7 separate regions of the Homo sapiens genome follow, and regions 2, 3, 4, 5, 6 and 7 are each linked to region 1. Evidence: fine-mapped expression QTL. A gene starts in region 1. Each other region holds a variant in brackets. All regions are shown on one strand. Distances are between the middles of the regions.

Evidence for each region.
Region 2: its variant is fine-mapped to the expression of S1PR3 in pancreatic islets (PISA, PIP 0.95).
Region 3: its variant is fine-mapped to the expression of S1PR3 in whole blood (INTERVAL, PIP 0.95).
Region 4: its variant is fine-mapped to the expression of S1PR3 in whole blood (TOPMed, PIP above 0.99).
Region 5: its variant is fine-mapped to the expression of S1PR3 in whole blood (TOPMed, PIP above 0.99).
Region 6: its variant is fine-mapped to the expression of S1PR3 in fibroblasts (GTEx, PIP above 0.99).
Region 7: its variant is fine-mapped to the expression of S1PR3 in sun-exposed skin (GTEx, PIP above 0.99).

What each region holds. Positions count from the first base shown.
Region 1 is chr9:88,989,551-88,993,618 of GRCh38, forward strand. S1PR3 (sphingosine-1-phosphate receptor 3) reads left to right here and starts at 1,918. Exons shown (of 2, transcript NM_005226.4): 1 at 1,918-2,145. RefSeq lists a silencer at 1,464-1,758.
Region 2 is chr9:89,582,966-89,587,033 of GRCh38, forward strand. No RefSeq gene overlaps it. Among named protein-coding and RNA genes, the nearest start is that of GADD45G, 20 kb to the right of the region's middle. The variant C/CA (reference allele first, on the strand shown) is at 2,203.
Region 3 is chr9:88,855,143-88,859,210 of GRCh38, forward strand. The region is part of intron 1 of LOC124902205 (a long non-coding RNA gene); the gene reads left to right. Among named protein-coding and RNA genes, the nearest start is that of MIR4289, 110 kb to the left of the region's middle. The variant G/A (reference allele first, on the strand shown) is at 2,070.
Region 4 is chr9:88,871,003-88,875,070 of GRCh38, forward strand. All of the region lies in intron 1 of LOC124902205 (a long non-coding RNA gene), which reads left to right. Among named protein-coding and RNA genes, the nearest start is that of S1PR3, 120 kb to the right of the region's middle. The variant G/A (reference allele first, on the strand shown) is at 1,851.
Region 5 is chr9:88,949,778-88,953,845 of GRCh38, forward strand. No RefSeq gene overlaps it. Among named protein-coding and RNA genes, the nearest start is that of S1PR3, 40 kb to the right of the region's middle. The variant G/T (reference allele first, on the strand shown) is at 2,062.
Region 6 is chr9:88,744,215-88,748,282 of GRCh38, forward strand. It overlaps MIR4289 (microRNA 4289), which reads right to left and starts at 1,691; the gene lies at 1,622-1,691. RefSeq lists an enhancer at 2,915-3,603 and a silencer at 3,500-3,794. The variant C/A (reference allele first, on the strand shown) is at 2,416.
Region 7 is chr9:88,812,405-88,816,472 of GRCh38, forward strand. No RefSeq gene overlaps it. Among named protein-coding and RNA genes, the nearest start is that of MIR4289, 69 kb to the left of the region's middle. The variant C/G (reference allele first, on the strand shown) is at 2,176.

The DNA.
Region 1 (4,068 bases):
AGGCAAACGGAGCCTCACTGAAAGAGGAATTTCAGTGATGCCATGGGTCAGATCCTGGGTCTCTCTTAGGGAAACCTGCCATAAAGCATGAGAGCCACATTACTCCTCAGGGCTTCTGGGCTCCGATTCCGCAGACTAGTTTTGGAGGCATCACCACGCCTCAAGGTTGCTCTGTTATATCAGGGTAACTGACTTTCTCTAGGAACGGAGACTTGGGTGCCCCTTAAAACAACCCTCAGCCAGTATCCTAGCAGTAAATTTTTCATCACGGGAAGCAACTAATTGAACAGAGGTGTGATGAACCTACTGACCACTTTGGTAATATAGACACAGTGGCCACAGTATGCTGTATTGTTATCCTGGTTGTGACCAATGCCAAAGGAGCATGTTTCCTTCTTTTCTTGACTTGATGCTGTAGGAGTCCAACAAAGGGAAGCACATTCAGGCCCACATGAAACTTGGGACAGAAGTGGCTTCTCAGAGCCGTGCACCAGGCACTTTGAACAAGTTGGAAGGCTACAGTGCCGGAAGACTCCACAGTAGCACAGGCGAAGTGGCTTAGGCGAAAACGCTGGGAAGTACCCCAGCTCCCGGGGGCCAGAGCCTCTAGGGCTGGCAGCCTCAGCAGGCAGAGTCACTTGCCTCCTTCAGCTCAATTGCTGAGGGCTTGCGTTTCTCTGCAGGGAACAGGAGTGCCGCCGACTTCCACTCTTGGTGCCCTTCACCGCTCAAACTGCACCCCAAATAAGCGTATGCACCCTGCTCCAAGAGAAGGATGCGCTGGGCTGATCCTCTGGAGGCAAGAGGGCAAAAGACAGAAAGTAACGAGCGGCCTTTGCACAAACTCAACTCTCTGCAGCGGCCCCTGCGGCCCAATCCTGCCGGCCCAGGAATGCACGGTCGGATAACAGGCCTCTCCTTGCTTTTTCGTCTTCTTCCTCCCGCTTCTCTCCTCTCTCCTTTTCCTCCTCCTCCTTTTTCTTTAATTTTCTCCTTTCTCCCCAAGCTTCTACAGTTGTTTCTGTGTTCGCTCAATCATGGCCTTTGGCATTGATTGAAAATTTGGCAGTTCCTTCTCTCGGAATTCTGTTTGAAGCCTTCATATGGATTTATTATTATTATTATTATTTTTGCCACACAAAAGGGGCAAATCCGCGTGAGGAAGGGGGTCGCATGGGGGTCGGCTGAGATCTGCTGGCTGCCGGTCTAGGAGGGGCGCTGCTCTGTGCCGGAGTGGGCTCTGGTGCACCAGCAGAGGCTGGGGGAGAGTGCTGCCCCCGCCTGGAGCCCAAGTCTCTGCGTGCCTGGGGGTAGAGCGCGGAGAGGGACCAGGCAGGCGCCGGAGGGGACCCGCGCGGAAAAGGAAGAAGCCCAAACAAAAACGCTGTCCGGCGCCAGGCGCCCACCTGCAAGCCCAAGCCGGTGCTCGGCCAGTTACAAAAGAAATGGTCAGGATCTGGACAACGATAATGATAGTATTAATCCTCCTATTAAGAATCGGCCCAAACAAACCCTCGCTGTCAGGGCGACAGGCGCCCGCCCAAGCCCAGACCTCGGACCTGGTTCCAAGCCTGTTCCCGCTGGGTCTCTGGGCGCCCGGTTTCTGCACCTGGAGCTCGCCCGATGAGGACAAGGTCTGGAGGCCGGCCTGGGAACAGGGGCCGAAGGGCGAGCCGGACCCTAGGGGATTGGTAGGGTCGGGGAGAAGGGGTCCAGGCTAGGGGCGGGCGGGGCGCACGGAGACCAGGCGGCTTGAGCGGGAGGTGGGGAGCTGGAGGAGTGCCGGGTTCGCGGGCGGGGGACGGGGAGAGGGGGGCGGGGAGAGGGGCGGGAGTCGGGGGCGGCGAGGGGAGGGGCGGAGCGCGGGTCCCGCCCCGGCGGGCCGCTGGAAAAGTTTAGTCTCTGACTCGCTCGGGCAGAGGCCGAGGAAGCCGGTTCCGGGGACGGGCAACAGGGACTCAGGGACCAGAAGGCGGCTGCAGGACGCGACCGAGCAGGACCCCAGGCCCGGGAACGACGTCGCGAGCGCTGAGACTGCCGGGCCTCCCAGCCCATCTGGCATTCGAGCGCAGGACCGGGCGCCCCGGCACCGCCGCGCGCCACCCGCTAGGATGCCGGTGGCCCCAGCGCCCTCAGCCGACGGAGGTGAGAGGCGGGCCCGGGCGGGGCGCGGAACCAGGGTGGGGGGCTGGGGGCCGAAGGACCCACCTTTCCAACAAAATCCCCACCGATCCCGGGCGCGACGGGGACTTGGGCGCGCCACGGCGGCCGGAGCGCTCCACATCAGCACCCCTCCCCCAGAGCCGCTGCAGGAACAGGGAGGAGGCCTTTTCCACCGCACCCGGAGCGTTTACAACGGGCTGGAGCTGAATACCTGGATGAAAGTGGAGAGGCTGTTCGTGGAGAAGTTCCATCAGTCGTTTTCCTTGGACAATTAACAAGTTAGGCTTCCACAGTGCCAGGGCCTGGGGATGCTGGACGTGGGAGAGGGTTGTGGTCGTTAGCCTGGGAAAATCATTCTTTTAAACAATATTCGCCGGAAAATTAGTTTTTTCCTAACATTTCTCAAACAAGGCAATTAGGGCCGTCAGAATCGGTGCTGGAAGACGAAGTCCCCACAGTGCAATAATGAGGTTCCCACGGAAAATCAGTACGTTGTGTTCGTAACTGAGATAACAGCTAGAGAAGGGGCTTTGGGCTTTTTGAGTCTCCCAATAGTCAGTCTCTCTCTCTCTCTCTCTCTCTCTCTTCCTCTGACTTTCTGGCTTTGGACACTCCCAATGGTATATTTCTTTGTGGTGTTTTTATATTTGGATATAAGAGAGGAACTTCTTGTTGGATTTTTAAGGGAACACACTTCGTTTTGACCCTTCCAATAAGGAAAGGGGAGCTACAGGAACAGAGAGCTCTTTAGAAGGTTACTTTTAAATGGAGGCCCCCCCATTCATGGTACCCACTCCCACTTGGACCTCTGAGACCTCCAGAATTAGGCATCATTCTAAAATCTGGACATTAGAAGTCACAGACTTTGTATATAACCACATATTCATAATTTATCTTTTCAATGTTTTTTATTCATAGATGAAAATCTTGCAGGCATAGTTAAGAAAAATATAATTCCTAGAAAGTACAAGGGAAGGATTATGCTCTGCAGATACATGACTAACAAGGATAGCTGGCCATGCCCAGGGCTGGTGTTGGTTGAGGAGGTGGTGATGGTGCGGGGCATGTGTGTGTGTGTGTGTGTGTGCGCTTGAGGAGTTGTGGAAGTGTTCATATCTGTAAAGTATTATTTCATGGATGCAGACCTTAATGCTAGGTTGAATAACTTTGTTGCCATAGAAGAAGAACCGCACGTCAGGCTTTTTTCATTAGCAAACCAGTAAGCACTCACTTTGGGCCTCTGAAATCACTTCCATCACCTAACACCAGAGATACAAACTGAAGCTAGCCCTTAAGAGCCTCCCCCTAAGATTTAGAGAGAATGATTTCTCAACCAGTTTTCATCTTTGAAAGTGCCATTTCTCCCTTTATCATTGTGATTTTTATTCAAATGCATGAGTCTCTGATTTTCTACCATATACAAAGGGTAGAGACTACAGTTTCCTATAGAAGAAACTTCACATAGTGGCCGAAGGATCTTATTTCTCAAAATTCAGGAACTGGTTTCCTCTTTCTGGAAATTATGACATTAACTTGATTTCATGGTATCTCTTTCATCTTCCTCAATGCCTGTGCTGTATGTATATTTTTATTATATACTGTAGGTATATTTTTATTACCAAAAAAAGGAGAATTTGAGCATGCCACAATCTTGAAAAATCTGAGGTTGCCCTGCTGTAGAACCCTTTAACTGCCAGGACTTTGTACTGTTTCCCAAGTGTTACCAGAGCCAGGCCGCCAGCCTTATGCAGTCTGTTTACCTTAGCTGGAACCAGGGTGCTGTGCTGTGGGTTCTATGAAACTTTCTGTTTCTTCATATTTGGCTTTGTAATTCCTTTCTTATCAGTTTTGGAGGCATTTCCTATTATTCCTCTGCCATATGTTTTCTGCCAAATTAATTGCCTT
Region 2 (4,068 bases), 590 kb after region 1:
GGACTATGGGACAACTATACATGATTGCCATGTATATGGACATGACTATAGTAGATGGACAGACTATCTAAAGACATCCATGTAGACAGACAGACTATCTAAAGAGATTATGACTGAAAAATATCCAAATTTGATGAAGAGTATAAATCTACCACTCCATAAAGTTCAATAAAACCCAAACACAAGAAAAATGAGGAAAATGAATCAAGGCACATCATAATCTAATCTTAAAAGCAACCAGAGAAGCAGCACAAAGGAACAGATGCAGAACAAGAGCAGATTTCTCACTGGGAAGGACACGAGAGAACATGGTGGAGCTGCCCCTTTAAAGCGCAGAGCAAAACCCAAACCTTCAACCTAGAATTCCATGCCCAGAGAAAACATCCTTCAAAACTGAAGGTGAAATACACACGTTATCAGACATACAAAAGCAAGACAGTTCTGACCAGCAGAATGACACTGCCAAAAATGTTAAAAGAAGTCTTTGAGGCAGAAGGAAAATGACCCCAGATGGGAAACTGGATCTAAGAACTGAAGAGCTAAGGTAACTTTATAGCAACTCTAAGACCTTTTTCCTATGATTTAAATTTCCTTAAAAGTAATTGTATAAACAAAAATGATAGGGCAGTGTAGGATTTATAATGTATGTATGAGTAAAATGTGTGACAAATATAGCATAAAGCCCTGGATGAGAGAAATGGAAGTATACTATCTTATGGCTCTTACAGAATACATGCAGTGGTATAATATCACTTGAAGAAAGACTAACAGTTTGAAGACAGATACTATAAACCCTATGGCAATCACTAAAACAATAACAACAACAACAACACGACAACACAACAACAACAAAGCTGAAAAAGAAGGGAATCCAACTAATTAATCCAGAAGAAGGCAGCAAAAAGTGAAAATGGAAATAAAGAACTTGGGGCAAATAGAAAACAAATAGTACACAATAAATTTAAACCTAATCATAGCAATAACCCCATTAAATGTATGTGGTCTAAACAAGCCAATGAAAAGGCAGATTCTATTTATCATAGTACTAGAAACACTAGCAAGAGCAATCAGGCAAGAGAAAGAAATAAAAGGCATCCAAATAGGAAAAGAAGAAGCCAAACTATCTCTCTTCATGGGTTATATAATTCTACACCTAGAAAACCCTAGACTCCACCAAAAGGCTGCTAAAGCTGATAAATGACTTACGCAAAGTTTCAGGACACAAAATTAATGTACAAAAATCAATAGCATTACTATAAACCAGTAACATTCAAGCTGAGAGCAAAATCAAGAATGCAATTCTATCTACAATAGGCACACAAACAAAAAATACTCAAGAATATATCTAACCAAGGAGGTGAAAGATCTCTACAAGGAGAACTACAAAACATTGCAGAAAGAAACAACAGATGACAAAAACAAATGGAAAAACATTCCATGCTCATGCTCGTGGATTGGAAGAATCAATATCATTTAAATGGCTACACTGCCCAAAGCAATCTACAGATTCAATGCTATTCCTATCAAACCAACATCATTTTTCATAGAACTAGAAAAAACTCTTCTAAAATTCACAAGGAATCAAAAAAGAGCCCGAATACCTACAGCAATCCAAAGCAAAAAGAACAAAGCCAGAGGCATCATATTACCCAACTTCAAACTATACTACAAGGCTACAGTAACCAACACAGCATGGTACTGGAAGAATGCAGAGAATGAAACTGGACCCACATATAAAGAAAGAAACTGGACTCCTATATAAAATATGCAGAAGAATAAGACTGGACCCCTATATAAAGTATACAAAGCTAACTTTCACCATATACAAAAATTAAGATTAAAGAGGGATTTAGATTAAGATTAAAGAGGGATTAAAGAGGGATTAAAGATTTAGATGTAAGACCTCAAACTATAAAAATCCTAGAAGAAAACCTGGACAATACCCTTCTCAACCTAGGAAATACTGTCTGACAAAGAATTTATGGCTAAGTCCCCAAAAGCAATTGCAACAAAACCAAAAACTGACAAGAGGGACCTAATCAAACTAAAGAGCTTCTGCACAGCAAAAGAAATTATCTGCCAGTTGTGGTGGCTTATGCCTGTAATCCCAGCACTGTGGGAGGCTGAGGCGGGTGGACAGTGAGGTCAGGAGTTCAAGACCAGCCTGGCCAACATAGTGAAACCCCGTCTCTACTAAAAATC[C/CA]AAAAAAAAAAAAAAATTAACTAGGCGTGGTGGCAGGTGCCTGTAATCCCAGCTACTCGAGAGGCTGAAGCAGAAGAATTGCTTGAACCTGGGAGGCGGAGGCTGCAGTGAGCCAAGATTGCACCACTGCACTCCAGCTGGGCAACAGTGCAAGACTCCATCTCAAACAAACAAACAAAAAAAAAGAAAAAGAAAAAGAAAAAGAAATTATCAACAGAATAAACAGACAACTATGGAATGGGAGAAAAAATTGCCAAACTATGCATCCAACCAAGGTCTAATATCTATAAGGAACTTAGTTCAACAAGCAAAACCCAAATAACCTTATTTGAAAATGGGCAAAGACATTAACAGACACTTCTCAAAAGAAGACAGATAAGTGGCCCAGCCACATCACTAATCATTAGAGAAATGCAAATCAAAACCACAATCAGATAACATCTCGTACTAGTCAGAATGGCTATTGTTAAAAAGTCAAAAAATCACAGATGCTGTGGAGGCTGCAGAGTAAAGGGCATTCTCATACACGTTGGTAGGAATGTAAAGTAGTTCAGTCACTGTGAAAAGAAGTTTGGAGATTTCTCCTCAAAGAAAACAGAGCTACCGTTTGGCCCAGCAATCCCATTACTGGATATATATCCCAAAGAAAATAAATCATTCTACTAAAAAGACACATGTGTTTGCATGTTCATCTCGGCACTATTCACAATAGCAAAGACATGGAATCAACACAGGTGCTCGTCAATGGTGGACTGGATAAATAAAATGTGGTACGTATATACCATGGAATACTATGCAGCCGTGAAACAGAACAAAATAATGTCCTTTGCAGAAACATGGATGCAGCTGGAGGCCGTTATCCTAAGCAAATTAATACAGAAACAGAAAACCAAAGATTGCATGTTCTCACTTAGAAGTGGAAGCTAAATATTGGGTACCTGTGGACATAAAGATGGGAAAAATAGGCAATGGGGACTATTAGAGGGTGGGACAGGGGCAAGGGTTGAAAAACTAACTATTGGGTACTATGTTCAGTGTCTTGGTGATGGTGTCATTCATACCCCAAACCTCAGCATCATGAAATATACCCAGGTAACAAACTTGTACATGTACCCTTGAATCTAAAATAAAAGAAAAAAAAGAAAAGAAAAGGCAGATTGTCAGATTGGATTAAAAAAAACAAGACACATGTCTATTTTCTGCCTAAAAGAAACATACTTTAAATATATAAACATAAATGTTTTAAATGTAAAAGACAAGGAAAGATATACTGTGTTTACACTAATCAAAACAATGCTGGAGTGGCTCTGTTAACAAAAACATGGCTTTTAGAGCAAGGCATGTGGCCAGGAAAAATTTCACAGTGAAGAAGGGGTCAATCACCAAGGAGACACAACAATCCTAAACATTTTTGTGTATAATAATAGAGCTTCAAAATATAAGAAGCAAAAACCCGAAGAACTTCATGGAGACATAAGCAAATCCACAATTGGATTTGAAGAGTTCAATAACCTCTTTCAAATGATTGATAGGATAATTAGGCAGAAGTTCAGTGAAGATACAGGAGATTTGAACAATACTATCAACCAATTTCCTTTAATTGACAGAACATCCACCCAACGACAGCAGAACACTTTTTTTTTCTTTTTCTTTTTTTCTTTTCTTTTGAGTCAGAGTTTCGCACTGTCGCCGCCCGGGTTGGAGTGCAATGGCGAGATCTATGCTCACCGCAACCTCCGCCTCCTGGGTTCAAGAGATTCTCCTGCCTCAGCTTCCCGAGTAGCTGGGATTACAGGTGCCTACCACCATGCACGGCTAATTTTTTGTATTTTTAGTAGAGACAGGGTTTCACTATGTTGGCCAGGC
Region 3 (4,068 bases), 130 kb before region 1:
CAAAGTTGGCAGTACAATGATGCCAACAAGTTCAGACAAAAATAGTCCAAACAAAAACCTACTCTTGCTAGCCAAAACACCAGAAAAGGAGCAGCCTCACAAGATATTAAACTTTTAGACTGTAATTGCTCAATTCCAATCAAAAAACACAGAAAACACTTGATCCCATCCCCACCTACACCAGCAAAGGCCAAGGACCCCAAACTCCTAACCTCATGAAGTAACAAGGTGTTCCAAACACCCCTATCCCCAATTTCTTCATCCTGGTTGGTATCAGAGCAGCTGGAGTTAAGAGTCAAGACTTTCATCCCCGCCCAACAGTAAGACACCTCCTGCTTCCATGCTGTCAGTGGCCACCATGCCAGGAAATTGAATTTCTATCCTCATAGTCTGTAATAAGAGTGTAAGAATAGAAATGCTGCAGGAACAAATATGTATTCAAATAAGTAATGGCTGAAAATATACCAAATTTGGCAAAAGACTTAAACTACAGATTCAAGAAGTGAAATAAACTCCAAACGAGATCAACACCAGGACACATCATACTAAAGCTTCTGAAAACTAGAAACAAAGAAACAAAGAAAAAATATTGAAAGCAGCAAAAGAGAAAGGATGTCTTACCTACAGAGGAAAGACAGTCTAAATGACAATGAGTTTTCCATTAGAAACCAAGGAGGCAAGAAGGAAGGGTCACAACATTTTGTAAGCGCAGAAAGAACAGAATTGTTAGTACAGAATATTATATCTTTTAAGGATGAAGGGGAAATCAGGACACTCTCAAATGAAGAAAACCTAAGGGAATCTGCTGCCAACAGACCAACCCCAAAAGAATAACTAAAGGAAGTTATTTAACCCATTTCCTCTTTGCCCTGAGAATACTCTTCTCTCTAATCCTAACGTGACATCATAGACATTTCTGTTACATTAGTATTAGAGACAAGTTCTGTTTAGAAGTAACTGCAAAAACAGTTTTTATATTTCATTTTCACATTGAAAATCAGTCAGATTTGACTCAGCCTCAAAGAGCATGTAAAATTAAATGAGTGCTGGCAGTGAGCTGCATTTTTTTTTCTAAAGGGAAATGGGTTAAACATAAAGGAAATTATAAAATAAGAAATCTTGGGAGCTTGGAAGCAGAGACTGGGCTATTATCAGACTCTAAACCAGCTGGCACCTTGATCTTGGACATCTAGTCTCCAGAACTGTCTGGGAGAGAAAATGGCAGAGAGGAGGCAAGACTAACTTTCAACTCCCACTCAGATGGACAGAGCAGTGTGTGGAGACACACATTGTGAAATTTTGCTCCAAGACCTGCCACAGGAACATACCAGGAATGCTGAGAGAATCCAAAGACCCTTTGAAGGAGGTGGGTTGCTGCTGCAGGCTCCATGGGACAGCTGTGGAATTCTGATGTGCTCTTGAAAGTGCCACGCCCTGGCTGGAGGCCAACGAACACAAAACCAGTGCACTAAACAAAAATACAACCACATACCCTCACAGAGTCCACTTCACTCCCCAGCTACCTCCACCAGGTGCTGGTATCCATAGCTGAGAGAGCTAAAGATGGATCACATCACAGGACTCTTTGCAGACACTCCCTCCTCAGTACCAATCCAGAGCCTGGTAGTTCTATTGGGTGGCTAGATCCAGTGGAGAAATAACAATGGCTGCAGTTAGGCTGTCAGGAAACCCCATTCCTAGAAGAAGGGGAAGAGCACCATATCAAGGGAGCACCCTGTGGGACAAAAGAATCTGAACAGCAACACTTGAGTCACAGATCTTCCCTCTGACATAGTCTGCCAAAATGAGAAAGAGCTGGAAAAACAATTCTGGTAATATGACAAAACAAGGTTTTAACACCCCCAAAACATCAAGACAAAAATCTCAGAATTGCCAGAAAAAGAATTAGAAGGTTGACTATTAAGCCAATTAAGGAGGCACCAGAGAAAGGTGAAGTCCAACTGAAAGAAATCAAAAAGAAAATACAGGATATAAATGGGAAAATCTTTAGTGAAATAGATAGCATAAATTAAAAAAAATCACAACTTTTGGAAATGAAGAACACACTT[G/A]GAGAATTGCAAAATGCACTGGAAACTCTCAGCAATAGAATCAAAAAGTAGAAGAAAGAACTTCAGAGCTCAAAGGCAAGGCTTTTGAATTAATCCAATCCAACAAAGACAAGGAAAAAAAAAACAACAATAAAAAATGAACAAAGCCTCCAAGAAGATTGGGACTATGTTAAATGGCCGAACCTAAGAATAATTGTTTTCCCGAGGAAGAAGAGAAATCTAAAATTTTGGAAAACATATTTGAGGGAATAATAGATGAAAACTTCCCCAGCATTGCTAGAGATTTAGACATCCAAATACAGGAAGCTCAAAGAACACCTGGGAAACTCACTGCAAAAAGATGATCGCCTAGGCACACAGTCATCAGGTTATCTAAAATAAAGATGAAGGAAAGAATCTTAAGAGCTGTGAGGCAAAAACATCAGGTAACTTATAAAGGAAGCTCTATCAGACTAACAGCAGATTTCTCAGCAGAAACTCTACAAGCTAGAAGAGATTGGGATCCTGCCTTTAGCCTCCTTAAACAGAACAATTATCAGCCAGGAATTTTGTATTCAGTGAAACTAAGCTTCATAATGAAGGAAAAATACAGTCATTTTCAAGCAAACAAATGTGAAGATAATTCACCACTACCAAGCCAGCACTACAAGAACTGCTAAAAGGACCTCTAAATCTTGAAACAAATCCTAAAATACACCAAAATAGAACATCTTTACAGCATAAATCTCACAGGACTTATAAAAGAAAAACACAATGAAAAACCCAAGGTATTCAGGCAACAAATAGCACAATTAATAGCATAGTACCTCACATCTCAATACTAATGTTAAATGTAAATGGCCTAAATACTCCACTTAAAAGATACAGAATGGCAGAATGGATAAGAATTCAACAACCAATTATCTGCTATTTTCAAGAGACTCACCTAACACATAAGGACTCACATAAACTTAAGGTAAAGGGTTGGAAAAAGCTATTCCATGCAAATGGACACCAAAAGCAAGCAGAAGTAACTATTCTTATATCAAACAAAACAGACTTTAAAGCAACAGCAGTTAAAAAAGACAAAGAGGGATCTTGTGTAATGATAAAAGGACTAGTCCAGCAGGAAAATATCACAATCCTAAATATATGTGCACCTGACACTGGAGCTCCCAGATTTACAAAACAATTACTACTAGACCCAAGAAATGAGATAGACCGCAACACAATAATAGTGGGGGACTTCAATACTCCACTGACAACACTAGACAGGTATCAAGATAGAAAGTCAACAAAGAAATGATGAACTTAAACTATATCCTGGAACAAATGAACTTAACAGATATTTATAGAACATTCTATCAAATAGCTGCAGAATATACCTTCTATTTATGAAATATTCTCCAAGGTAGATAATATGATAGGCCACAAAACAAGTCTCAATAAATTTGAGAAAATTGAAATTATACCAAGTACTTTCTCAGACTACAGTGGAATAAAATTAGAAATCAACTCCAAAAGAAACTCTCAAAACCATGCAACTACACAGAAACCAATAACCTGCTCCTGAATGATCACTGAGTTAACAATAAAATCAAGATGGAAGTTAAAAAATTCTTTGAACTGAGCAATAATAGTGACACAACTATCAAAACCTCTGGGATACAGCAAAGGCAGTGCTAAGAGGTAAGTTTGTAGCATTAAATGCCTACATCAAAAAGTCTGAAAGAATACAGACAATCTAAGGTCACACATCAAGGAACTAGAAAAACAAGAACAAACCAACCTCAAACCCAGCAGAAGAAAAGAAATAACCAAGATCAGAGCAGAACTATATGAAATGAAATTGAAACAAAAAAATACAAAGATTAATGAAACAAAAAACTGGCTCTTTTAAAAGATAAATAAAATTGATAGACTGTTAATGAGATTGACCAAGAAAAGAAAAGAGATGATCCTAATAAGCTCAATTAGAAAAGGAACAGGAGGTATTACAGCCAATACTACAGAGATACAA
Region 4 (4,068 bases), 120 kb before region 1:
GAATTTTAGAATCCAGTAAAGTTCATATTGTCAAATAACTTATTTAAAGAGTTAGGGAAAGACTTGGGGAAAGACTTTCCAATCTCTCACTTCACTTCCAGTGTGAGATGTTATTTATATATGCAAAACTGGGAGGTATATATGTATATACACATCTAATAAGAATAACTTGAGTTGAGCAACCCTAAGATGCTACCATTTGTTTCATCCTTTTTAAATGTGCGTAGCCCCTCTCCAAACACACATAAGCAGTTTGAGGCAGGGACCATATTTTGTACTTTTTGCCTTCAAAGAGCATGATCCATAGCAGGAGCTACTAATGAGTGTTCGATCATCATAATGATGAATTAAATATAGATATTTTGTCATTCGTATTTTATTCATTTATTTTTGGAGATGGAATCTTGCTCTGCTGCCCAGGCTAGAGTGCAGTGGTGTGATCTTGGCTCACTGCAACCTCCGCCTCCCAGGTTCAAGCGATTCTCCTGTTCAGCCGCCCGAGTAGCTGGGGTTACAGGTGCCCACCACTATGCCTGGATAATTTTTGTATTTTTGGTAGAGACAGTGTTTCGCCATGTTGGCCAGGGTGGTCTCAAACTCCTGACCTCAGGTGATCCACCCAAGTTGGCTTCCGAAAGTGCTGGCATTACAGGTGTAAGCCACCTTGCCTGGCCTATTTTGTCATTTTAAAAATGTATTTCTCTACCTTCAGGTGGAGTCACAGATCTCAGTGGTCACCCCCAAGTGGAGAAGCTGTGCGATGCTGATGGCCTCTAGGGGGTGAGGCCACTGGGAACCAAGCCCTCCCCTGCAGCCCAGCGCTGTGTCCGCTGCAGCATGGGATCCTCGGGGCACTGGCTGGGGACATCTGAAGAGGTTATTGCTTCGCTGGCATGGACGGCAAGGGTCACACTGCCCAGCTGTGAGTTGCCCCTCAAGCAGCACCCTGTCGCCATTCCAGAGGAATGTTCCAGAGGAAACAAGGAACTGAGCTTAGCTCATCTCTGGTCTCTCCTCCCAGGAAGGACTTTTGTGAGGCCTGTTTTGTCCCCCACTGCCCGGCCATAGCCAAGTCCCTAAATGGACCTTCTTTGAAGGAAGAACCCAGCTACTCAACGCCCACCCTGTTCCCAGCCCCTGGTTTTGATGAAAATGCAGTCGTGCCCATGAAACTAGGAATCTGTGGGGTTTTTTAAAACTGCAGTGAGAGACAAAGAGCTGCTTCTCTTTGTCAACCAGGCTTCCCCCCTCCAGACATTTGCTTCTGCTTAGAGATATTATGAGCCGGAAAATTCACAAGGCCAAATCAGAGACAGGGGAAATTCCTCTGAGGGTTGGTGAATGGAATATAAATCCTGCTCTGATGTGGAAAACTAAGTTGCTGCTCAGTCATTATTCCTGTCAGCATTCCAGGGCCAGTCCTTGTCATTAAAGCTGCACTTTCATCCTGTCCACACACTCAAGGCCACACAAAAATAAGGGACTGCCCAACACTAAACTTCTTTTATTTTTTGAGGGAAGGGGGCACTCCTCTTTAGGGAAACAATATGTTTAAGTCAAGCAAAGAAGTTAAAAGTATGAAAACCATCTATGTGCATTTTCCTTTTCTCCATCTCCCCCCATCCACTCTTTCAACCTTCAGCGCTAATTTCTTGTTACCAACCTTGCACTAATACAATGCGACATTCTCAGGCCTGGAATTTGGTCTTTCAAAGCTGGTTCTGCTCCAAGTCCTCTGTGACCTTTCATTACTTTCTTCCACACCCCCTTATCTGAGCTGTCCATGTCTAAATGGAACCTACAGTTCCCAGAGAGAAGACAGAGAGAAAGAGAGACAGAAATAAAGAAGA[G/A]AGGGAGAAATAAAGGGAGGGAGGGAGTGACATAGAAGAGTCAAGGAGAAAGAGAGAGGGAGAGAGAGAAAAAGAAAGAGACAGAGAGGGAAGGAGAGAGAGAAAGAGTCAAAGAGAGAGGCAGAGAGAAGAAAGAAGGGAAGAAGAGAGGAAGAGAGAGAGGCAGATGGAGAGAGAGGGAGAGGAAGACACTGAGAAAGAGTCAAAAGCAGATAGCGGTGTGGGGAGAGAGAGAGAGAGAGAGAGAGAGAGAGAGAGAGAGAGAGAGAGAGAGAACCGAGAGGACCAGGCTGACTTGAGTGTCTCCTGCTGTGATCCAGCTCTGGAGGCCACACAGCATCGCTTCTACTGCATTCCACCCCACCCCATCTAAGGCAGTCACCAAGATTCAAGAGACAGAGAGTGGGAGAGTGAAACAAAGAGAGAGAGAGGGGGAGAGAGATAGAGAGAGAGAGAGAGAGAGAAAGAGGAAGAAGAAAGAAGAAGAAGAGGAAGAAGAAGAAGGAAGAAGAAGGAAGAAAGAAGAAAGAAGAAGAAAGGGAGGGAGAGAGGCAGAAAGAGACAGAGACAGAGCAGCGAGGCAGAATGAGAGACAGAGAGAGAGACACAGAGAGACAAAGTGAGAGAGTGAGAGAAAGACAGAGACAGAGAGAAAGAGACAGAAAGCAGAAAAGCAAAGGAGAGAAAGAGTGACAGAGAGAGAGAGTGAGAGAGAGAAAGAGAGAGAGGACATACACTGGCAAATCCCAGTTTCCTGTGGGAGAGGGGAAAGCAGAGCCGGTGTGTCTGGAATTACTCTTCTTCCCCAATCTATAATCCTTTTTCATGTTTTGATTAGAAACACTGTTGAGATGGAGCACCTATGAGAGGTCGTTCTCCTGGCATGGTCACAGCCTCATCTGGGCAGCTCTTGGCTCTTGGGCTCCTGCCCCGGGGCGGATCTTCATGAAGCACTCACGCTGTTGCCAGGAGGGGTCTGTCCAGCTGCATCATGCACCTGAGGACCCTTGTGCTTGCGGGGTGTGCATTCTCACTGCTAGTCCCGAGGGAGCAGAGAGCCCCACCGGCCCTGCTTCATTCTCCTTGTCCTGGCCATGCAAATGCGCTTCTCAGGAGGACCAGGAGCTGCCGAGGAAGGGGAGTCTGATCGGTGCAGTGATCAGGGACTCCAGGCTCACACAGTTTTCCCTGGAGAGCCCGAGAGGCAGGGAGTCTCTTACATTCCAGAAGAGAAAGAGGGACCATTCAGGATGGCAGGTTCAAGGATGAAGAGTTTTCTGTTTCTCAAAGCTTTTGGGGGATGACAGTTATGATTTTCATTCTTTAACATACGTTCAAACGTGGGCAACATGGATAAATATGCATTGCCACTATCACTTCATGAGTGACTTGAGAACTTTGGAATTAGGCAGAAGTTATGGCCCCCAAAACTGCTATTTTCTTTCTAATTAGACAATACAAGTACTTGAGGAATTAATTTGCTGTTTGCTTTCAGCGCTGACACATGAACAGTGAAAGGGGTCAAATTGTGCTGCGGCCATCTCCCCATCTCCTCCCCTCGCCTGACCTTGACCCGCCTGTGACCTTGGCTCTGTTGGCACCGTGCTAAGCCAATTACACTCACTCGGTGGCTCAGCCACATACCACAGTATCAGGCAGTCACAGCAAAGGAGTGGCTTTAGAATATGTGAAGGATCACCCCTGTAAATATGATTATCTTTCCTGGGCAGGAGAAACTGGAAGTTCATGTGTTACTGATGGCCACCTGGCGTCTCTGCACATAAGTGCAGGGCCATTATTGAGGATGGGAGAAGTTGTCACTATGACTAAGAGACTGTGGCTCTCCAAAGAGTGTCTGCCGAAAGGACCAGTCTCCTTGGAGAGTGTAATGTGTCATGGCACTATTCACTTTTGGGGGAAAAGAGCTTTACTTTTTAGAGTAAACTTGTGTTGAAAAGAACCAAAGCAAACACTGAAACCTATTCACAGACTGAAATCTTGTTTGCCTCAGGGAAATACTGTGCAAAATATTCTACAATCTTGAAAGTGCCCTGAAAATGAGTACTCCCTGTTTCAAGTCCTCAAATACCAATGACTCCAGAGAAGGCTGTGTTCTCCAATTTCACCTAAAAAGTAACAGATCTCCTAATGTTTTAAAGTTTGTGGGTTAAGCAGGAGCCTGAAACATTTTTTAAAAATCAACTTTATTGGCTGGGCG
Region 5 (4,068 bases), 40 kb before region 1:
CTCCACAAATCTCTTGTCACTTCTTTCCCCAGTGCTCATATAAATACACCATGTATTTTATAATGTGTATATGAATTCCCCAAGAGAAATCTAGTTCAAACTTTCATATTGCAAACATGCCTGGCCAACACTTTGGCACTCTGTGCACCCGAGTGTGTCCATGTTAAAATGCCTACTATTAAGGGATTACTTTGCCCCCTTTCAATTTTATAGATATGCAAACTTGAGTGTGAAGTGGCATGTCCAAATTAGTGCCAGCTCATTAGGCCAATAAAAGCTGGGAATCAATCTCATTACTGTTTTTGCCCAGTTCTGAAGAAGCTTCCAGCCACCAACCTGGTGACTCAACTAGCAACTGAGAATCTTCATGCATCATCCACACCCAGTGGGGCTGTTTACACACTCCTGCCTCCACCACAAGGCCCTGCAGTCACACCTTCATCACACTCCAGCCAAACACCCAAACGAAGAGGGTCACAGATCTCTTTGAAACTTTGATGAAAGCAACCAAAAGCAAAGGCATTTGCTCACAGAAGCATTTGGCATACTTGCCCTAGAATGGCCAGTGGCATCTTCTCAGCCAAGCTTAGCAGCTGGAGCTGCCCCTTCCTCCCCAACCAGAGCCGCTCCATGACCTGACTCTGCTCAAGAGATGTGCCCTGTTCCCAGAGAGGCTCAGGCTTTCCAGCAAAGTCCGCAGGGCTGCCTGCAGCCCCTGCTTAGGGTTGGGCTGGCCCCCTCCTCCACTCACTACTTCATGCACAGCTATAATCCCCTGGGCCATGAGAGCTTGTTCACACATCTTCATTGTTCATGTCTTTCACAATAGCATAGTTGTGAAACAGTCCTGTATAAACACATCACAGACAAAGGCAAACAAGACAAAAACAGTTTCAAAAACTTTCACTTAAATGTGCTCACTGTCATAAGTTTAAAATTATTGAAAACATCATGAATTTAAAAGCCCAGGAAAACGAAGACTCGTCTATTATTTTGCCTGCAAGAAGCACACACCAGTGAGATCGTCCAGTGTGAGTCAGAGTATTTAAGGAGTAGCTCTTCAAACACTTCGATTTTTATCCCCATTGTTTTTAAGAATGGAGAGAAATGGATTGCGGTAAAAAGACGTCACTGTCCACTAAAAGTCAAAATACTGCATTTAAACTCTTCACGGCAGGCACGGATTACTTAGAATACTTTTTGTGAGGTAAACACCATGGCAGAAAATTAATGAGTCATACTAGCTAGGGATAACAAACATGGCTTGATTAGCTGCAGATAGTGAGAATTTCATTCCTCATGCATTAAGGGCTAGTTTCCTAGAGAGGAGGATCAAACAGAAACCAGTAAAAGTCCTTGGGTTGTGAGTTACAGACCTGGCCTCTGGGAGATGGGCTCTGGGCAGATGCAGAATGGCTTTTGACCTGCTTTGTGTTACATAGAAAAATGTGTGTTTGGAGGATGGTCAAATCAAGACCTCAGTTTAATGATTTCACCTCATGGGCACTGTTGTGTGGTCATTGCCTCATGCTGTGATCCATGCATTGTGTGTGTGTGCATGTGTGTGTATCTGTGCATGTGCACATGTGATTGTGAATGCATGTGCAGACATGTGTGTACATGTGCATGTCCTTGAGCAGATACATGCATCCAACGCAGTTTAACAATGTCTCCCACCTAACACTTCTCCAGATAGCTGCACAGTTGTGTTGCTCCCATGGTGTCACTGATGTGATGGTTAACTTTATGTGGTGGCTTGGCTAGACTATGGTGCCCACATGTTTGGTCAAACACCTGCTGTATTTTTAAGAGTTGATTAACATTTCAACCAGTAGATTTTGAGTGAAGCAGGTTCCTTTCTGTAATGTGGGTGGATCTCATGCAGTCAGTTGAAGGCCTTAGGGGAAAACCGACCTCTCCCTAGGAGGAGGGAATTCTGCCCCCAGACTGCCTTTGCCTTTGGACTCCAGCTGAAGCATCAAGTCTTCCACTCTTCCCTGGTCTCCAACCTGCTGGCCTGCCCTGCAGATTTTGTACTTGTCAGCCTTCACTATCACATGA[G/T]CCAGTTCCTTAAAATAAATCAGTATCTCTGTCTACACACACACACACACACACACACACACACACACACACACGCATCCTATTGGTTCTGCTCCTCTAGAGGACCCTGACTAATACCCAGCACCTTTCTATGGGTAGAAGTCAAGCAATGTTGCCAGCAGTGATATTTGGCCAACTTCATGGTCATCATGAAGACCATCATGGGAGGGTCATCACCTTGTTCCTGGCCTGTGCTATGATGCATGGGGCTTGCTTTCTGGGGTCTGCTAGTGAGAGAAGGAGCCCTGGGAGCTGAGACGAGGCCTTCATCACCCAGCCTTGGAGAAGGAGGTCAGAGAAAGTTTCTGGCAGGAGACAAGCCAGCTTGGAAAGAGACAGAGAGATGGGATGCCTTCTGGTTTCCCTGGAAAATGGGCATCAAAATGGTGGTGGAACAAGGCCACCAATTCTGGTGTTGGCAAACATGAGCTGAATTTCCCCATGGCAAACATGAGCTGAATACAGCTGGTCTGTATTGGTGCAAAACGTATTATTCTTTATTGCAGTGGTTCTCATACAGCTGAATCCCCTGGGGGACTTTTAAAAATGCCCTACCCCAGAGACTCTGACTCAGCAGATCTAGGGTGGGATCCAAGAATTTGCAATTCTTAGCTGATGCTGGCCCTGCTGATCCTGGGGCCACACTTTGAGAGCCATTGTCCTATCAGGATAAATTTTTAAGCACCCATGGTCCTCATAGATTGGGGATTGGGTGAACCATCACAGGCCATTGCATTGCTTGATGGTACTCAGAACCCAAAAGAGGGGCACCCAAGAAAAGATCGGGTTGTTAGTGCCAGCCTTTCATAGAAAAGAGCAGGAAGGCACAAGCAAGCTCCTTCTCATTTCCCGCTGTCTTCACCACCACACCAGGATGGAGTGGGCATGGAGTACAAAGGAATCCCTCAGCTCTCCCACCAGGGTGAGGTTGCACAATAAAGTATCCATTCCTTTGTCCCCCCAAAAAACATAAGAAGCTCTTGCTTCTCAGGGCATTGTGCATACACCACCTGGGAATATTAATTTAAAACACAAATAAAAAGCTACTCCTAAGACCACCAAATTCAAAGTTTGGGAGCCAGAGCCTGAGAACCTGCATTTAACAGCGCCCCATTCACATCAAGCAGACTGAAGTTGTGACCCAGCCCTATTCAGCCTCCTCCTGGTGGGTCTGGTGCCCACAGTTCCCCTCCACTCTGCACCAGGCTGCTGCACACATCCCTTCAATGCACCAGCCACTCTGCTCAGGGCAGCTCTCACCTCACCTGGCCCCTCTAAGGGATGCCCTGTAAGCCCACAGTGCTGAGTCAGTGGGATCAGTGGGCATCGGGAGATAGGGACCTGCCTGCAGAGGACAGAGGTGCCCTGGACAGTGTGGTGGGGGCCACACAAGAGCAGCCCTTGAGGGTAGATACACCACCCAGTTCCACACTCATAACTAACCACTTTCATCTGGTGAGTCGGGAACAGTGGGAGCAAATTGTGTCGCTCAGTGTTCAGCTTCACCCACAGATTAACCACAACATTAGGGACCCACAGTCCGTCATCTGCTACACATCAGAGGGAATGAGGGATGTGAGTCCTGCCCAGCGATGTCTCATTCTGACTTCGTGGGATTTCTGGCCTCTGTCAGAACAGGAAACAGGCTTGTGTTGCATTAAGGATGCTGCCCTTGCTGCGTGGACTCTTTAGGAAGGAATGAGAGCAATTTCCCCAGAGTGGGGCAGTTCCAGGTCTGGCCCTCCTTTCTCCCAGGGGCAGGAATCGGCCTTTGTGCTTAGGGAAAATGGACACTGGGCCTTGTGCTTGGAGCTTCTACTAAACTCATCTGAGAACTAAACTCTGCCCAGAAAGTTGAACAATGGACCTTCTGTGTTAGAGAGTTTGAAAGTGAAAGTGGTCATAGAGTTGAATTTTTGGAGACAACATTCTGGCTCCCTGGGAGACAGGGATTAAAGCCTGGGTAGT
Region 6 (4,068 bases), 250 kb before region 1:
CCTGGCATTCTGAGGGCAGCTGTCCTTAAGTAGAGCAGAGACAGAGATGAAGCTACAGCTGCAGTCTGTGATCAGAGCCAAAGCACGTGGACCTCCTGCAGCCCCTAACCCTTCTGCGTCACGAGCACCCTAAATTGCAGAAGGAAGCTGAAGGGGCAGAGGGGATATGGTGATTTTAAACTGTAAGGAACTTCAGGGCAAGTTTTGCACTGATTGGGTCTTTGCAATGTAATTTTTCTTAAAAAGCTTGTTGTAAAAGCATAATTAGAATGTTTTGCACATTTCTTTCTATTCAATGGAGAAATTGCACTGGGTAGATGTCACTCAGAATCCAGTTCTGGCCCTTTCAGGGAGTGAGACTTTAAAACAAGTACACAAGGTCCCACTACTCTTGGTGAAACTAAATGGGGCTGCTCAACTCCATTCCCAATCCCCATGGAAAGTGTGTGGTGAGCTTTCTCAAGTAGCAGCAGCCGACAGTATTAACAGCATCTCTACATTGTAAATACATCCATGGAGGGAGAAGGGAGGAGCTCTGTATAAACAGGAAAGTATAGAAGGGGCAATCAGGGCTGAGCTGCACCTGGGTCAGTAAGGTGGCTGCTCCCTGAGTGCAGAGACACAGCCTGTCCTGCCAGGAGCATGAAACCTATTCAATCAACATTTTTGTATGAATGTGCATCAGTGATCCTCAAGATATTAATAGGAGTTTCAGGGGACAAAGGCATTCTAGCGGCCCAATGAGGAAACCCCACAGTAAACAGGCTTAAATTCTTGTAGCATCTGTAATGTTCTGTGGGCATCCAAAATCCCAAATGTGTGTTCAGGGACACTTCCTCAGTGTCCCTAAACACACATTCTTTGGAGAGGGGTCAAAAGACTTATTAGTCGCTCCCAACAGAAGTGTCCAAGGAACACAAATTCAGAAAATAGCAATTCAGCTGCACTTCCTTATTTGCAGGTGAAAGCCGCCATTTGGTTTAATGGGAAGAGGTGGTTTTGGAGTCAGAAGACTGAGACTGGGATCTGCCTCCTAAGGATGATGGGTATTGGAAACTCACGCCTATGTATCCATTTGTACATTTGAATAGGGGTGTAGTTGTGGCAATGATCTGTAGCTTTTACTGAGCACAAGGTAGGGTGCCTAGAACTCAGGAAGTGTTTAATAAATGATAGCTCTTGAAATTACCAATGGAAAACTGAGTCCTGGTGAGAACCAACTGGCCCAAGGCCAGCCAGTAAGGGAGGTACAGGGCGGAGCTGGGTCTGGGTTTCTTGCCTCCCCATCAACATTCTTTTTACTGTACTACACTAACTGAGAATAGAAGTTGTACATAGTTGTATTTCTCTTATAAGGATAACAAATCAAATAGATGTTGCCAGATGTTTCTGTTTCACAGAAGAATGAAGTTAATGGTTGTATATCAGGGCTCAAACCTAAGATTTAAAGAGAGATTGCTGAGCAAGAGCAGCCATAAAAGATGTCTATGTTGGTATTTCAGCATTCCTGGGCCGCATAAAGCACCATTTGGTCACATCTGGTCTCCATCAGGCCTGAAGTGTTACATAAATACATGCATGGTTTATAGGGTAAGGAGGCCCTGTTGAGACTGGCCAGATGTGATCTGTTTAGGCTCTGCAGACAGGGCCCAGGAAACTGCCTGATAGCCCTGCACAATGCCCTCCCAAGGGACAGAGCTCTCTGCTGCCATCAGTGCATCTAGGGCAGAGATACCATGCTAGCTGCTGTCACTCATGTCCAACATGCTTGGGTGTTCAACCTCCCTCTGTAAAAGCTCTTATTATAGACAACCAGTGGAGTTCAGTTCAGAAGTTAGAGAACAAAATGCTTTAATGACCTTGTGGGCTCCATCCATCCATCCATCCACCCATCCACCCATCCACTCATCCATTCATCTACCCATCCACTTCACCCACCCATTCATCTATCTACTCATTCATTTATGCATTTCTGCAATCATTTACCCACATGCCCATTCATCCATCTACCCATCTATCTCCATCTATATTCATCCATCTTTCTATCCATCTATCCATCCACCTGCCTGTCTGTTCAATCTGTCCATCCACCTATCCAACCATTCATTCTTATCCATGCACCCACCCATCCACCCTCCCATCCAGTTATTCAATGAATATGAGCTCCTTGCATGTGCAAAGCACTAGTCTAGGCGCAGGGAATCCCGCAACAAACAAGTCAGGCATGGAGCTGACATTTGTATCATGTTCCAGAGGGGGAGACAACATTGAGTAATTCCACAATTATTCATTGGCTAGGGTAATAAACTCTCAGAAGAATTACAAAATGCTCCAAGAGTGTGTAATAGGAGATGCCTCCTAACTAGGAGGCCAGAAAAGGCTTCCCTGACGCAGTGGGAGTGCCGTGGGGCAGCC[C/A]GGAGCTCTGGCTACAGCCCTGCACCCACCCTGGCTACTGCTTGGTTGGTTTTGTTTTCCCCAGGCCTGCCGATTTTACAGTTAACTCTTTCCTCCATATCATAAGCTTCCAAAACAAGGTTATCCCTTGTTTAGGTAAAACCATTAAAATTTTCCTAGTATCAAGTCCCCCAAGCAATCTAACTAAAAGATTGAATCACAAAATAGAAAAGTCCCTTCTACCACAGCTAATGCTGGAGGAGAATTCCAGGGATCCCTGCACAGCAGTCTCAGGGCAGCATGCCTTCCTCCCCAGGCCACCCGGGGCTCTGAGGAAGGCTGTCAGACTTCGGCCCCTTCCTGTATACTGAGCTCCTGACCACAGTCTTGTGCCGGTTTTGCTTTTTTAAAAGGGACAAGCAAACAGGAATCTTCCCCATGCCTACCCTCACTCGTGCACACAAAGTGGGCCTGGCTGTCATTTCCTCCTGGGGTCTGATCTCTGTTTTATGCTCCTGCTTGTTGATTCTGACCCAGGTAAGCCACACAGGGAAAAGCCATCTCCCTGCTCCTTGCTTCGGGGCAGCAGAGCCATTTCACACACACAAACACCCTGCACCCCAGCTGCCTGGTTTCAGTGGCTGCTTGCTTATGGCCAGACAGCCGAAGGCCAGGCAGGGCCCGGCCTCTGTTCTCAGGTCTCAGCAGTGATTATGCATGCGAGGTAATTACACTGGTCTTGTTTCCGTGCTCTAGGCCTAAGCCTGGATATTCAAGGAAGGGAGCCTCTGGTTTTTTGCTACGTTATAATTTCTTTGTAGGGACAGGGCTCTAGGCGACTCCCAAATGGGCTACCTGTGCCGTGGCCACTCATTTCCTATTGTGCAGAGTAGCAATTACACAGCCAGAGGCTGGCCATGGGTGGGTTTGTTCTTCTCTGTGACATGTATTTTGTGAAACAGAAGAGAGGTCCTCTGTTTCTGAAAGCAACTCTTAAAATAAATACACCAGGCTCCTCCAAGGAATATCTGCATGAGAAGAAGTAAGCTACTATGTCTAGTGGCTCTCAAAGTGTTTTGGCGGGTTGGTCAGTCGGTCCACACAGGGAGAGAGGGGCAGGACAAAGGCCTCACCTCCCACTCAACACTTAATCCTGGTCTTGGGAAAGTTAGCGTTTGCCCACAGGTGACATGTTCTCAGGGCCTGACTACCTGCGGGTGGACACCAAGGATAAGCTGTGTCTTGAATTTTTTTAAAGCTTAAAAAGAAATTACTTCCAGCTGTGCATCATGAGAAGACACTGGTTGGTGTGTGTGAACCGATTTGCAGCACAAAGGGCCCCAGAGTACTTGGCTGGGCCAGATAGTGATGATGACTCATGCTGTCTTTACAAGATACTGCATAAACCTAGAGCAAGACAGAAGTTCCTCCCTCCCGACTCCACCCCCTGGCTTTATTGAGATGTAATTGACAAATAAAGCTTGTATACAGTTAATTGTACAATGTGATGATTTGATGCATGTGCATATCATGAAGTGACGGCCAAGATGAAGCTAATCAGCACTTCCACTGCCTCACATGGTTACCATTATTTTTGTGTGTGTGAGGACACTTCAGTTCTACTCTCTTAGCACATTTTCAACATACAGTACAGTATTATTAACTATAGTTACC
Region 7 (4,068 bases), 180 kb before region 1:
GTGGATCTGTGATTGGCACTCACAGCATCTGAAGAGCCACAGGGACTTGCAATGCCAGCATCATAAACCATGATCCTGGGGATTCAATACGGAAAACACACCCTTTTTCATAGAAAATTACTCCAAGACAATTGCCCATCCAAATGAAGCAGAGGGTGTTCTGAATGGAGGAATGAAGACAGATAGTGAAAAACAGGTAAGGACAGTCCACCCTGAATCCTGTCCAGTGCGGGGCCCCAACCAGGTGCTGGCCTGTTCCCTCTCTGTTTCCTATTTTGAGTGTTTTTTTTTTCTCTTTCTGTTTCTGGTTTCCATTGTTGGGTTTTCTAAATTTGCATTGCTCATGGAAGTATCTCCAACTCCTCCTCTTTGTCTTTGGCGTATCATCAAACTGTTTGTTGCTAATAAGAAATAAAATCCGCATACCTGCACTTTAGCTGGTTTAGACTTGCGTGGCACAATCAGAAAATACTCTCTTTGTCTCTCTAAGAAAGTCTTCAGTGGAGGGAATATTTCTCTTCCCCGGGGACGGCAATGCAGCAGGCCTTATACTTCTCTTACTATTTTTAAAAAAAACTCTTGATGGAAGTATTCTGTCTACTCAAGCCATCAAAACACAGTCTTAGAATATAGTCTCAATTTGGTCATTTGTGTTGAATCCTGTGTTGACCTGAATTGAGCGTCCCCTGCAGGCACATGTGGGCGGGCAGGCCAGTTCAGGGCCAGTCAGTCTGTCTGAGCCTGGTCTCTCCTGTTGTCCAGGGCCTCTCCACTTATGGCTGAGAGCTCACTGCTCCACATGAAGGTTTGGAGGAGGGACCACAGGAGGAGGAGAGCCCTGAGGACCTGCCTTCTGGGCCCAGGAAGGGCCTCCTGCTGACCCTCTCATAGTGCATTCTGGCTTGCCAAGCTCCCCTCTCACTGGGTGGGCGGGGAGGGTCTGTGACCGCAGCCCCTTCACCTGCAGTCGGGTTCACTTCTGCGGGTCGCTTACTCAGGGAGCCAGAGGTGGAGGGAGCTGAGCTGGCCTTTGATGCTGCTACCTCCCACACCAGGCCCACATCCCATCAGGCCTCCTGCACCCTGAGCTGCAGCCGGCTCTGACAGGGCATCACTCCCAGCACAGTGGGTCTCCCATTCCCCATGATCTTAACAGCCACAGGAAGCAGTTCCTCACACGGAAGCGGGCAGGATGAGCTCTTGACTTGAGCTAAAAGGGAAAACACCTTCCACACCTACAGGGGGCTTCGATACACCCTCCAAATAATCCTTTTCACAGAGTCTCCCAGCCTCCCCCACATGAGGCCTAGATGCTCCAACAGGTCCTCAGAGAGCAAAACCAATTTTTAATGAATTCCGTTGTAAATGTTGCATAAGCTCCGGCACCTCGTTTGAAATGCAGCCAGTCCTGTGCCCTGTTTTCCAAGCAGCGCCTTCATGTTAACATCTTTTCATCTCTGGGAAGAAAATTGCTTTCCATCAAAAGATTTAGAAAGCATGGGATTTATAATTCTCTTTAATAAGCAAAACATGCGTGCAGAAACGCTAAGAAATGAGCGTGTGGGGTTTCCCCACTCAGACCCAGGTCAAGGTCAGAGCCTCCAGGGTCCCTATGTGCCTTAGTCATTTATGTAAACAGTCCTTTACTTTAGGGCACTTTCTGTTGATCTATTGGCCATATACTTTTTTTTTTTTTTTTTTTTGAGCTGGAGTTTCACTCTTGTTGCCCAGGATGGAGTGCAATGGCATGATCTTGGCTCAGTGCAACCTCCAACTCCTGGGTTCAAGCAATTCTCTTGCCTCAGCTTCCCGAGTAGCTGGGATTACAGGTGCCCGCCACAACACCTGGCTAATTTTTGTATTTTTAGTAGAGACAGGGTTTCACCACATTGGTCAGGCTGGTCTCCAATTCCTGACTTCAGGTGATCCACCCATCTTGGCCTTTCAAAGTGCTGGGATTACAGGCATGAGCCAGCGCGGCTGGCCATACACTTTTAAAGGAGGGGTCTGCTTTAAGATTTGGATGAAAAATAAATAAAATTAACTGCATGAAAAAGCAATTTGCAAATGGGTGGTCCAAGCCCCTCTTAAAGTTTGATACATCTTTCAAGCTGAGAGGAAGTCTACGTACCTCCACCATCTCCAGAGTTTGTTCCCTGCAAAAGTGATTTTAAT[C/G]TAGAGCAATGAATTCTGCAAACTCACATCTCAGGCATGTTCCTAATAATAGACTGCCTCCCTGCCCCCACACTGGCAGCCGAATGTTGCCAGTCCCAAGGAATGCTCCATCATGATGCCATTTGCCTGTCAGGACTCTATCCCAGCAGCAGCTGCAGCTGATTATGGCTCGGCTGTGGGCTGTGTTTTTTTATGATCCACCTCCTCCCTTTCAAAATCAATCAGGGCACACTCATGGAAGTAAAATTAGAGGCCCTGGCCAGGGCTTCAGCTTGAGAAATGCACTTTCCCCTCCTTTTCAGGGCAGTGGTGTCCAAGGAGGCCAACAGAGGGGTGGACACCCCGCAAGAAGCCCTGTGACAGCCTCCACCCAGCGTGTCTCCATCTATAGGCAGTTGCTAAGAGACTTAAAATGCTTTTATTCCTGAAGTTTCTTCTTCTTTCCCCTCCTAACCACCCTGGTGTGGCCCTCAGCTCTCAGTAGATATTTCATGTTCTGCACTCCCCTTCCAACCATGTTTATTTCTGCTTTGGGATGCTTGTTGGAAATAGCATGCCATTCAAAGTCACAGACTGTCACCTTGTCCTTAGCTGCTGCCTTCATTTCAGTCCTTTTTTCTACCTATCGAGACTCATTGGCAACCACCATGTGGTCCCTCCCCAGTTATCCCACTGCTCTCTGGGGGCATCATCTGAGCTCGGTTGTCCCTCAGCAGCCTGGGCCAGAGCTGTCCTCTTTGGTTGATTCTTGAACAATCCATCACCTTCACATCCCAACGTGACATTTCCATAAGATCAAACTGCATTCTTTATCCATCCCTGAAGATACATATTCATTTTCAAAAGCTTTGGCTCTCAATTAAAACAGAGAGAGTCATTTGGTCGAGGGCTCTGTGGAAAAGACATTATTAGCTGGAGTATTCTTCTCTTCCCTGTGGTGAATGAGAGAGCATTTTCCAATTAAGGCACTCATTCACTTTCAAGAGGCATGTGCAGGGTGCTCAGATGCGGTATAAAGGAGAGCCAGGCAGATCAGTAGCAAACGAGAGGAAAAACTGGTGGAAAATTAAGAAGAAATGAGAGTATTCAGATGCCAGAAGAGAAAATGAAAGACTGATACAGTGACGTACTCCTGCCCCAGAAGCGGAGTGTCTGCTCAAAAGCGTGAATTTGTGCAAAAGGTTGTGCACCAAAGCAGAAGGGATTCTGTTTGCACAAATGCATGTTTCTATGGATGTGCACGAGATCTGTTGTTCTAACAAGAATTGCTGAGCATTTCCAGCAGGTCACTTAGGGGAGAAAGGACTCTGCAGCCTTCCTGGCCCATCTTCTTCCTAGGTATCCCGGGGGAAGGGCATTTCTGATCTGCCTGCTCCAAAGCTGGGACTAGTACTGGGCCATCTGCTATCGCCTCCCAGGTGATGTGCCATAAAGTCAGAACTCATGAAACATCTCCTGGGCAGCCTCCTTCACTTTCCACACCTGTAACGAGTGGAGAAATTTAGGCCTGGGTCTCTCTTTCTCTCACTCTCTCTGCCCCATCTTCGTCATACCAGATATTCCGAGCATGCTGGTCCCAAAATACAAGTAGTGTAGGGGAGGCCTGGAGAGAGTGAGGCAGGAGCTCAAGTTGTCCCAGAGCCTTGCGTGGGAGCTGGTTGTTGCTTTCCTGGCCACTGACAAAGCGCTTCACCGACCTCCAGTCTATTCTCATTTCCTGCCTTTGACTCCTCGGTAGAGCGCCGTGCATCATGACTGATGACTGACTCTCTTGCCGGCTCCCTGTGGTCAGTCCCTGGGTTGGGTTGAGGCAGACACTCCATCTTCATGGAGTGTGGTCTACTGTGGAATTTCCTGCTGTGTTGGTCTCTGCATCGGTCACTGTGATGGTCC